Linked DNA regions of Homo sapiens. The protein of the gene in region 2 purifies or fractionates together with the protein of the main gene of each other region. This does not show direct contact. Each region holds a gene or a part of one and is shown on either strand. Other genes may lie near its edges.

What was found. The genes of interacting proteins can lie anywhere in the genome.
Region 1: the proteins of CLPB (region 2) and TRIM11 purify together in Homo sapiens (co-immunoprecipitation; 3 studies listed by BioGRID and IntAct, with this or other methods). This does not show direct contact.

Annotation. Positions count from the first base shown.
Region 1 is NC_000001.11:228,393,176-228,396,835, reverse strand, and holds the end of TRIM11 (E3 ubiquitin-protein ligase TRIM11), read left to right. Parts: exon of another isoform or gene 1-93; intron 94-1,029; exon of another isoform or gene 1,030-1,125; intron 1,126-1,583; coding exon 1,584-2,131; 3' UTR 2,132-3,160; downstream 3,161-3,660.
Region 2 is NC_000011.10:72,431,450-72,438,542, reverse strand, and holds the start of CLPB (mitochondrial disaggregase), read left to right. Parts: upstream 1-4,011; 5' UTR 4,012-4,068; coding exon 4,069-4,471; intron 4,472-7,093. UniProt on the Homo sapiens protein: Functions as a regulatory ATPase and participates in secretion/protein trafficking process. Has ATP-dependent protein disaggregase activity and is required to maintain the solubility of key mitochondrial proteins.

The DNA.
Region 1 (3,660 bases), on a different chromosome or scaffold from region 2:
TGTCATGGTGGTGGGTTGTTGGGAAAACGTCCTCTGCTCATACTTCTGACATCAGTTGTGTGGGTATTTTCACACCAAACAATTCTTCAACTTCTGGAAACGAATTGGGTATCCAAGGATTCCATTCAGCATTGAACAGAATTGCCAGTGCTGACACTACAGGAGTTAGTACAGACCCCACAGATTAAGGGCTCAGTCCCATAAGACTGCCCCCACTTCAGATGCCAGTCACAACTTCCAGGGGCTGCCCATACTTCTGTTCCCTCAGCGCCTCTGCAGATGTGAGCATTCGCTAGCACAGCCCATGGAACTCAGAAGAGCACTTTACTTACTGTCATTGGTTTATTGTGAAGGATACCACTCAGGAAGAGCCAAATGGAAGAGACACATGGGCAAAGCCTGGGGAAGGGCTCAGAGCTTTCCCACCCTCCCTGGGTGCACCTTCCCAGCACCTCAGTGTGCTCACCAACCTGGAAACTCCCTGAGCCCCAAGAGCTGTTTAGGTGTCTTTGTGGAGGTTCCATTACATGGTTATGATTGATTAAATCATTGGTCATTGGTGATGGGGCTCAACCTCAGACCCCTTTCCCCTTCCTGAGGTCAGAGGCTGGGGCTGAGTGTTCCCGCCCTCTACTGACAGGATTGGTCTTTCTGGTGGCTGGCCTTATGCTGGGCTCTCAGGTCCCCACCTCAGCCACTGCAGTGGCATCAACTCAGGTGTGATGGAAAGGGGCATCTTATGATAGCACAAGATGCTTCTATCAGTCAGGAAATTCCCAGGGTTCTGTGAGCTCTGCGCCAGGAACTGGGCACAAAACCCAAATCTGAGTCTTGTATCACAGTCACCCAAAGGAAGTACTATCCTCAGCTCTTGCTAGCAGGTCAGGAGCCTGTTGTGTAGGAACTGTGTGCAGGCCTCCAGAGGTGGATAGATCTGAAATCGGAGTGGTCAGGGTTGGGACAGCTGCCCTAATTCACATCCTTCATTTGGAGATTGAAAGGAAAAACAGACTGGATGCATTGGCTCACCTCTGTAATCCCAGCACTTTGAGAGGCTCAGGCGGGAGGATTGCTTGAGGCCATCAGTTCAAGACCAACCCGGGAAACATAGCAAGACTCCCATCTCTACAAATAAAAAACAAAAAAATGAGCCAGCCATGGTGGCACACGCCTGTAATCCCAGCAGCTTGGGAGGATCTGAGGCGGGAGGATCATTTGAGCCCAGGAGATCAAGGCTGCAGTGAGCCATGATCGCACCACTGCACTGCAGCCTGGGGCCACAGAGCAAGACCCTGCCTCTTTAAAAAAAAAAAAAAAAGCAACCAAGATTCCCTCTTGATATCTGAAGGCAAAACATGGACCAATTTGTAGGACATTGTAAGTTGCAACTGGACGTAGCTAAGTGGGGAGAGGATGTCCACTTGGAGACAGTTAGTTACTCCAGGAGGTTGTGAGGCTACAGGCCCAGGGCAGAGAGCCAGGCCGTCCGACTGGGAGGATTGTACCTACATGCCCAGGACATGGGCAGATGGCCCCAGCTTGCCTGTGGCTGTGCCTGGGTGACCTTGGGCCTCTCTCTGCAGGGGACGTGACCTTGGACCCGGACACCGCCAACCCTGAGCTGATCCTGTCTGAAGACAGGCGGAGCGTGCAGCGGGGGGACCTACGGCAGGCCCTGCCGGACAGCCCAGAGCGCTTTGACCCCGGCCCCTGCGTGCTGGGCCAGGAGCGCTTCACCTCAGGCCGCCACTACTGGGAGGTGGAGGTTGGGGACCGCACCAGCTGGGCCCTGGGGGTGTGCAGGGAGAACGTGAACAGGAAGGAGAAGGGCGAGCTGTCCGCGGGCAACGGCTTCTGGATCCTGGTCTTCCTGGGGAGCTATTACAATTCCTCGGAACGGGCCTTGGCTCCACTCCGGGACCCACCCAGGCGCGTGGGGATCTTTCTGGACTACGAGGCTGGACATCTCTCTTTCTACAGTGCCACCGATGGGTCACTGCTATTCATCTTTCCCGAGATCCCCTTCTCGGGGACGCTGCGGCCCCTCTTCTCACCCCTGTCCAGCAGCCCGACCCCGATGACTATCTGCCGGCCGAAAGGTGGGTCCGGGGACACCCTGGCTCCCCAGTGACTCGGGCCCTCCTGGAGGAGTCCTGTTGCCTCTCCTGCCCCTCCAGGCCACTGAGTGTTTTGGCCACTTGGAGGACCTGGGAGGAGGGAGTGTGTCCTTTGAGCAAGAGGAGGAACTCCTGGTGCCTTTCTGAGCCTGCGTGGGAGAACCCCAATTCTAGCACTCCAGGAAACTGTGGGAGAGTGTGGGGCAGGCTCCGTCCTCCCTGGGAGACCCCTCCAGCCACCGGGTGCCACTTAATGCCAACAGCCCTTACCAAAGCTGGGAGCCCCATTGCCCCGGCAGCTCTGGCCTGTGGTTCCAGAAGCTGAGAAAACTCCACTGGGGCTTGCAGAATCCAGGGTTCACCTAAGCTGCACAGTTCCTGCAGCTTTGCCAGCCCCCTGAAAGTCTTGTGTACCCCACCTCTGAAGATGCTGGGGGAGGCAGCTGGGATGGGAGCCAGCCCCATGCCTGTCTGTGACCCCACAGTGGGTGAGAGCCCGTCACAGTCCTGGGTGTGGCTGCTCTGGAAGAATTAGGAGGCAGCCATAATAAGAGTCTTCAGAGAGATGATGGGAGGGGCCAGTGAGGACAGGAACAGAGAGTAGATGTCCTATAATAAAGGGGCTTCTGGGAGGTGCCTGGGCACAGATGTCTGTTCAGCAGGTGTGTGGGCCTAGAGGAGAGAGCAGAGCCCAGAAATGTCTTTTGCAGGCCCACGTTCTGACTTGAAGCTTTCGTGGGCATGTTGCCATTGGGTTTTGCCCTTGCAAAGGCTTCCTAGGTCTCCAGTGGCCCCTCAGGACCCAGGGTCCCAGCTGCTGCTTGGGGATGTGCACTGCTGGCCGCCGGCCTTGCAGTCTCTCTACCCTGGGGAGGAACAGTGGCTTCTCAGAGCCTGGGGCATACAGAAGAAGGCAGGAGTTGATTTTTGTGTTGGGTTTGGGGTTTCTTTGTCCTCAAGGTACTGTTCTGTTTCTCTTTACCCCTCTGCTTTATTTATTGTAAGCATTCCCACGTTAAATAAACTTTGGCTGTTGTCTACAAGTCATCCTGCTGGTGCCTGCTTAGTCCAGGAACAATAGCGGGTGCCCCACTGCCCAGCAGAGGGCAGAGCCCCAGGGAGGCTGTTGACGGGGCAGGCGGGAAGCTCAGGCAAAGTAAGGGCCGGGACGGGCAGCCACTTCCCACACCCAGGCACAGATGGGCTCTCCACTTTCTGTGCTCAATATATATGTTCCTTATGTGGAGCTATTGCCGGAATGTTTTTTTCGAGATATCCTGGTAAATGTTTCCTGCATTCCATTGTGCTTAACGAGTAGTCTCCTGATTATCATTTATTCAGTCACTCTCCCATTCTTGTCTTTTTTTTGGCAGGGGCCTGGGGGGGCATTATGTAATACCATGTTGAACAAGATCAGCAGTTTCATTCAGCTGCAACAAAGAGAAGTCTGAGTGGAAACCAGGGGACTGGGCATTTCTCTGTGTTGGGGTGGGGTTTTTGTTTGTTTGTTTGTTGTTTTTTGAGACAGGGTCACCCATGCTGG
Region 2 (7,093 bases):
TGTGACCTAAGAGTTTTTTGTGTGTTTGTTTGTTTTTTGAGACGGAGTCGCCCCGTCGCCCAGGCTGGAGTGCAATGGCGCGATCTTGGCTCACTGCAACCTCCGCCTCCTGGGTTCAAGTAATTCTCCTGCCTCAGCCTCCTGAGTAGCTGGGATTACAGGCGTGTGCCACCACGCCCAGCTAATTTTTTGGATCTTTAGTAGAGACGGGGTTTCACCATGTTAGCCAGGCTGGTCTCGAACTCCTGACCTCAAATGATCCTTCCAACTCGGCCTCCCAAAGTGCTGGGATTATAGGCATTAGCCACTGTGCCTGGCCCTGGATTGGTTATTGACCATACAGAATTCACTCTGAGTCCCAGCTGATTCTAATGGGTGGGGTTTTTTTGTTTGTTTTAATTTTAGTTTATTTTTCTTTTTTTTGGAGACAGGGTCTCACTCTGTTGCCTAGACTGAAGTGCAGTAGTGTGGGGATCCTCCTGCCACAGCCTCCTGAGTAGCTAGAACTACAGGTGTACACCCCCATGCCTGGCTAATTTTTTATTTTTTGCAGAGACTGTGATCTCACCATGTTGCCCAGGCTGGTCTCAAACTCCTGCCCCAAGTGTTGGGATTACAGGCACGTGAGCAAGCACACACGACCCTAATGGGTGTTTCCATACTTCCTCACTACATCCCCCACTCAGAGATTGATAATTTAAGCTTTTCAGTATCCCTACCAAATACTGATAGTAATTAAACCCTTCCTTGAACCCCTCGCAGATGGTATCTGTGAAAATAAAATAAGAAAATCAATGGGGAAGTGCTTTGAAAATTATGCATTGCTAAGTAAACTGAAGGGCCCTGGGATGTGTCTGCAGTGAGAGGGTTTGAACTCTGCATCTGGTAATGGGAGCTTTCGGAGACTGCTCTTCCTGCTGTGACCACCCTAAGTTGGGAGACAGAAATGTTTCAAGAATACAGGGAAGGTGAAGTTGCTATAGTGAATGGGGTGGTTAACAAAATAATATGTGCTGAAAATCTCTCAAAACAGAAAGGTCAAAATGCTTTCATTATTGAGTGCTTTAAAAATGATTTAAAAATAGTTATTCAAGGCTGGGCACGGTGGCTCACGCCTGTAATCCCAGCACTCTGGGAGGCCAAGGCAGGTGGATCATCTGAGGTTGGGAGTTTGAGACCAGCCTGACCAACATGTAAAACCCCGTCTCTACTAAAAATACAAAAAAAATTAGCCAGGTGTGGTGACACATGCCTGTAATCCTAGCTACTCGGGAGGCTGAGGCAAGAAAAGCGCTTGAACCTGGGAGGCGGAGGTTGCGGTGAGTCAAGATCGCGCCATTGCACTCCAGCCTGGGCAACAAGAGCAAAACTCCATCTCAAAAAAAAAAAAAAGTTATTAAAGCCAGGCGCAGTGGCTCACGCCTGTAATCCCAGCACTTTAGGAGGCTGAGGCAGGAGGACTGCTTGAGCCCAGGAGTTCAGACCAGCTTGGGCATCATAGCGAGACCTAGTCTCTACCCAAATAATAATAATAATAATAATAACAAAAAATTAGCTAGGTGTAGTGGTGCCAGCTGTGGTCCCAGCTACTCAGGAGGCTGAGGTGGTGGGATGATCCCTTGAGCCCAGGAGGTTTCAGGTTGCAGTAACAACTGTACTCCAGCCTGTGTAACAGAGCGTGACCCTGTCTCAAAAAAAACCAAAAAAGTCGCTCATTCATTCCTGTCTTACTAACGGATGTGGAAATGAGAAGTTCCATCTTTGCCTGGAGGAAGTGTAGAATACACAGAGCAGAGAATATACAATGATAGCTACCATTTCTTGAAGACCTACTGTGAGCCAGGGACAGTGTTAGGGGCTTTCTACATATTATCTTATTTAATACAAGCAATCATCTTGAAGGCAGGAATTGATATCTTCAACAATGAGTAATTAACTACCAGAGAGGTAAAGGGAGTTTGTCCAAGGTCACCCATATAAATGCAAGAGTCAAAATTAAAATCCACGTCTGCCTGAATGCCAAAGCTCAAGTACTCTCCAACACTAATAAGGTGAGAGTAATCCATTCACTGAAAAAAATATTTGAGTGCCTCAGGCCGGGCGCGGTGGCTCACACCTGTAATCCCAGCACTTTAGGAGGCCGAGGCAGGTGGATCACGAGGTCAGGAGATCGAGACCATCCTGACTAATACAGTGAAACCCCGTCTCTACTAAAAATACAAAAAAATTAGCCGAGCATGGTGGCGGGAGCCTGTAGTCCCAGCTACTCGGGAGGCTGAGGCAGAAGAATGGCGTGAACACAGGAGGCTGAGCTTGCAGTGAGCTGAGATCGTGCCACTGCACTGCAGCCTGGGCGACAGAGCAAGACTCTGCTTCAATAAATAAATAAATACATAAAAATAAAAAAACTGAGTGCCTCTTTTGTTCCAGACATTGTTCTGAGTGCTAGTGATATAAAAGTGAAAAAACAAAGTCCTTGTCTCATGGGGCTCATGCTGTAGTGGAGAAAGACAATAAAAATGTAGTATGTCAGATGGTGATAAATGCTGTGAAGGAAAATTAGGATGGGGTGCGTAGGATTACTATTTTAACCAGAATGGTCAGGGAAGACTCTGATCATGTGAAGTCTGAGCAGACGTACAAGACTTGGAAGAAACAGAACTGGCACAAAGAAGAACTTCCTCCTTTGCCTACCTATGGGTTCAGTTTGGAAAAGAGGGGGCGGGATGGGAGTGCAGGTGTTAATGGAAACTATATGCTCAAAATCAGAAGACCTGAGCATTACTTTACTCCAGGTGATTTACTGGCAAATCTTTTCACCTTTGAGCCTCAATTCCCTTCACTGTAGACGGGAATAACAGTTCTTGCCCAGCTTCTCACACACAGCTGCCATGAGGATCAGATGAGATGACCCACTTGAAAGCCCTTTAAAAATAACACAATCAGGGCCAGGCGCAGTGGCTCACGCCAGTAATCCCAGTACTTAGGGAGGCTGAGGCAGGTGGGTCGCTTGAGGTCAGGAGTTGGAGACCAGCCTGGCCAACATGGTGAAACCCCGTCTCTACTACTAAAAATACAAAAATTAGCCAAGCGTGGTGGTGCGTGCCTGTAATCCCAGCTACTCGGTAGGCTGAGGTGGGAGAATCGCTTGGACCAGGGAGACGGAGGTTGCAGTGAGCCGAGATGGCGCCACTGCACTCCAGTTTGGGCGGCAGAGTGAGATTCTGTCTCAAAAAAAAAAAAAAAAAAAAGACCGGAAGTCAACTCTTCAAATAAAATGTATTCCTATCTCAGGTGCAGTAGTTACCCTAAACATCTTTTTGAAAGGCCGCCCAGGCTGAAAAAAGAGATAGGCTAAACTAAATAAGCATAAGTTTCATAATATGCCTCTGCTGAAGATTCTTGGGTAATTTACACCAGTCAAAAATTGTGGGCCGGGCGCGGTGGCTCACGCTTGTAACCCCAGCATTTTGGGAGGCCGAGGCGGGCGGATCGCCTGAGGTCAGGAGTTAGAGACCAGCCTGGCCAACGTGGTGAAACCCCGTTTCCACTAAAAATACAAAAATTAGCTGGGCATGGTGGCGGGCGCCTGTAATCCCAGCTACTCGGGAGACTGAGGTAGGAGAATTGCTTGAACACAGGAGACGAAGGTTGCAGTGAGCCGAGATCGCGCCACGGCACTCCGGCCTGTGAGACAGAGCGAGACTCCGTCTCAAAAAAAAAAAAAAAAAAAAAGTGTGTCGTGTGCTTCAACTAAACTAGGAAAGAAGTCTTGGGATTCTAATCTTTAACTCTAATCGCCACGCCCCTTCACCCGAACTCTATTTCCCAATATGCCCCGGGCTTCTATAATCCCGCAGTCATTGTGACGCAATCCCACAGCCTTCTGGGAAACGTAGTTTATTTATTCTCCAGCTGGGGAAAGGCTTAGGGCTGTGGACTACCTCTCCCGTGAGGTAGTGCGCAACTCCACCCTGTTCGCGGCGTCTTCGAACGCGCCGCGGCAGCCATGTTGGACGTGGTCAGCACAGGGGCCGGCACCACGGGGTTATCGAAGCAGCTGTCAAGATGCTGGGGTCCCTGGTGTTGAGGAGAAAAGCACTGGCGCCACGGCTACTCCTCCGGCTGCTCAGGTCCCCAACGCTCCGGGGCCATGGAGGTGCTTCCGGCCGGAATGTGACTACTGGGAGTCTCGGGGAGCCGCAGTGGCTGAGGGTAGCCACCGGGGGGCGCCCTGGAACATCGCCGGCCTTGTTCTCCGGACGTGGGGCAGCCACCGGGGGGCGCCAGGGAGGACGCTTCGATACCAAATGCCTCGCGGCTGCCACTTGGGGACGCCTTCCTGGTCCCGAAGAAACACTCCCAGGACAGGACAGCTGGAACGGGGTCCCCAGCAGGGCCGGACTGGGCATGTGCGCCCTGGCCGCAGCGCTGGTGGTTCATTGCTACAGCAAGAGTCCGTCCAACAAGGGTGATTATGAGATCTGGGTTTGAGGAAGGGAGAGGCGGGAAGATTGTCCTAACTTCGTATCTTAGGAGGGTGGGAGGTACTTATAGGTTTAGATCCTTAGAGCCTAAGTCTTGGAGGGACTCAGACATCATCTGGTTACAGGGGCAGGGTGTTGCCCTAGAGACCTCATCACCTCGGAGTTGTATAATCTCGTACCATAGATCCGCTTCCCCTCTCTGGGCATCATTTTATCCATCTGTACAATGGGGATATTGGACTAAACATCTAATATTATAGCATGGTCCCCTTATGTTTCTCATATTCTGCCTGGTCCAATTCCTCTTTCCTGAGATCTCCAGGAAACGGAAATTATGGGGTGTTTTAAGGGCAACCGCCAGATGGTTTAGAGAAGTTGCCAAACCGCTCCCCCCTACCCCCCGCCACCAAAGGTGCCAGAGTCAGGAACAACCTGACTCGGTTCTAATGCCAGCTTGACCTCAATTTATTTATTTATTTATTTATTTATTTATTTATTTATTTATTTATTTATTTCTGAGATGGAGTCTTGCTCTGTCGCCAAGCTGGAGTGCAGTGGCGCAATCTCGGCCCACTGCAACCTCCGCCTCCCGGGTTCAAGCTATTCTCCTGCCTTAGCCTCCCAAGTAGCTGGGACTACAGGTGCGGGCCACCACACCCAGCTAATTTTTGTATTTTTAGTTGTTGGTCAGGATGGTCTCGATCTCTTGACCTCCTGATCCACCCGCCTTGGCCTCCCAAAGTACTGGGATTACAGGCGTGAGCCACCGCGTCTGACCAATTTCTTTATTTATATAGTGAAGGATAGTTTCCCAACATTTTTACAGTACTGTTATTTTGACTCTTTTTGGAGTTCAGCGGCCTGAGTCTGTCAGTCTCAGGATTTTGCTGTGTCTGGTCTCACATGCTGTGAGGTGATCTTGCCATGTGGGATAGTTGGCAGGAGAAGGAAGGTGGATTCCTGGAGGCCCAAGGGCAACTGCTGGGGGACTGGCTGATCCCGATTAGCATCTCATTTGGATCCGGGGAGCTAAGCAGCAGCTGAGAGAGTGGACAGAGAGCCAGACTGATGACCTATGTGAGTCCAGCCATTCAGGTTCTTAGTTGTTCCTCAAGAAGAAAGACTGAGGCATGGTGTCCATAGATTCCATGCACCCCAAGCTCTGAGAATTTGGAGCAAGAGTTGGGGAGTAGGGAGTGCCTTGACTTTGATTCGTTTGATGTGGCCAATTGTAAAGGAAGGACTTTGGTCTGGGAGAGACAACACTGGGGATCTTGTTTTGGTTCTGTGTCTAACTCTCATTGTGAATTTGGACTTTTGCTTCTCCTCACGGGTCCTCTGTTTCCTCATCTACAAAATGAGGGTTTTGAAATAGACACTAAGGGCATCGAGCTTAGGCATGTTGTAATCCTATAACTTCCAGCATTTTTGGGGGTACCCACTGTGTGTCTAGTTTTAGGCTAGGTGTGTGGGAAGTCCTAACTTAACACAAAATCAGTCAAGGGGACAGTGCAGGCAGTTGGAATGTAGGGCTGGTGAGTGGTGCTATGTGTCGTTGGGGGATCAGAGGGCCAGTAGGGTCAGGAAAGCCTTTCTGGAGTATTGGAGACCCCAGAGGATGGGAAATTTGAACTTGAGTTCTGAAGGATGAAGTAGAAACGGAAAGGGGAGTGATCTTTTGAGCCCCATGAGAGCAGGAAATGTATCTTCTCTTTTGTTTTTTCAGGTTATACTAGCAACTTTCCCGAATACCTAGACATCATTTGCCCACCACAGTGTCTGGAACTTAGTAGGTGCTCAGTAAATGTGTGAGAGTTGGATTATATTCCATGCAAAGGCTTCAGGGAATGGAAATAACAGTTTCGGGGCACCATGGTGTGTGCAGGGGCCAGCAGAGCAGCCAGCTTGGTTGGAGGATAAGGTCTTTGGAATTAGATGAGAGCAGATGGAGTGGGGCCTGGATGCCAGTCAGGGGTGGGGTAGGTGAGGGTGTTGGAATTTCTTCTGTAGGCAGTGGAGAGTTATGGAAGGTTCATGAGCAGGGAATGTTCTGAGTCCAGTGTATTTGGTGAGGTCTTGCCTAAGAAGTTCCTGGGGGTTCCCAACTGGACTTTATGGCCTATGAACTCCAGCAAGAATACCAGGGTCTATTTACCAAAATAGATAATGGTCAAAGCCGTGACCAGTTCCTGCTGGAACTGACTTGCCAGCTACCCTGTCCCCTGACTTAGAGTTTTGACCCTCAGTGCAGTGTGGTAGAAACTGAACCCTTTTAGAAGCCAGGAGGCCCTGGTTCTTAGCTCATTCCTCACTCTGTAACCTTGTAGAAGCCACATTTTTTTCTGCAGAGTGAAGGGAGAGTGGATATAGCCATCTCTAAGGAAGGCTTGATCCCCTCCCAGCTGGTGGCTGTCTGAGCCATGCTTGGGTATGTGCTTTAGGTACATCCGGTAAGGTAAGTAGAAAGGACCTGTCCCTGGAATCTAGGCCAGGAGGCATCAATGTCTGAACCACAGGACTGGCTTTCATATGCATGATAAGGTGTATTGTACAGATAAGGAAACTAAGGCTCAGGAGGTTAGATAGGTGGGCTAGGTTATACAGCA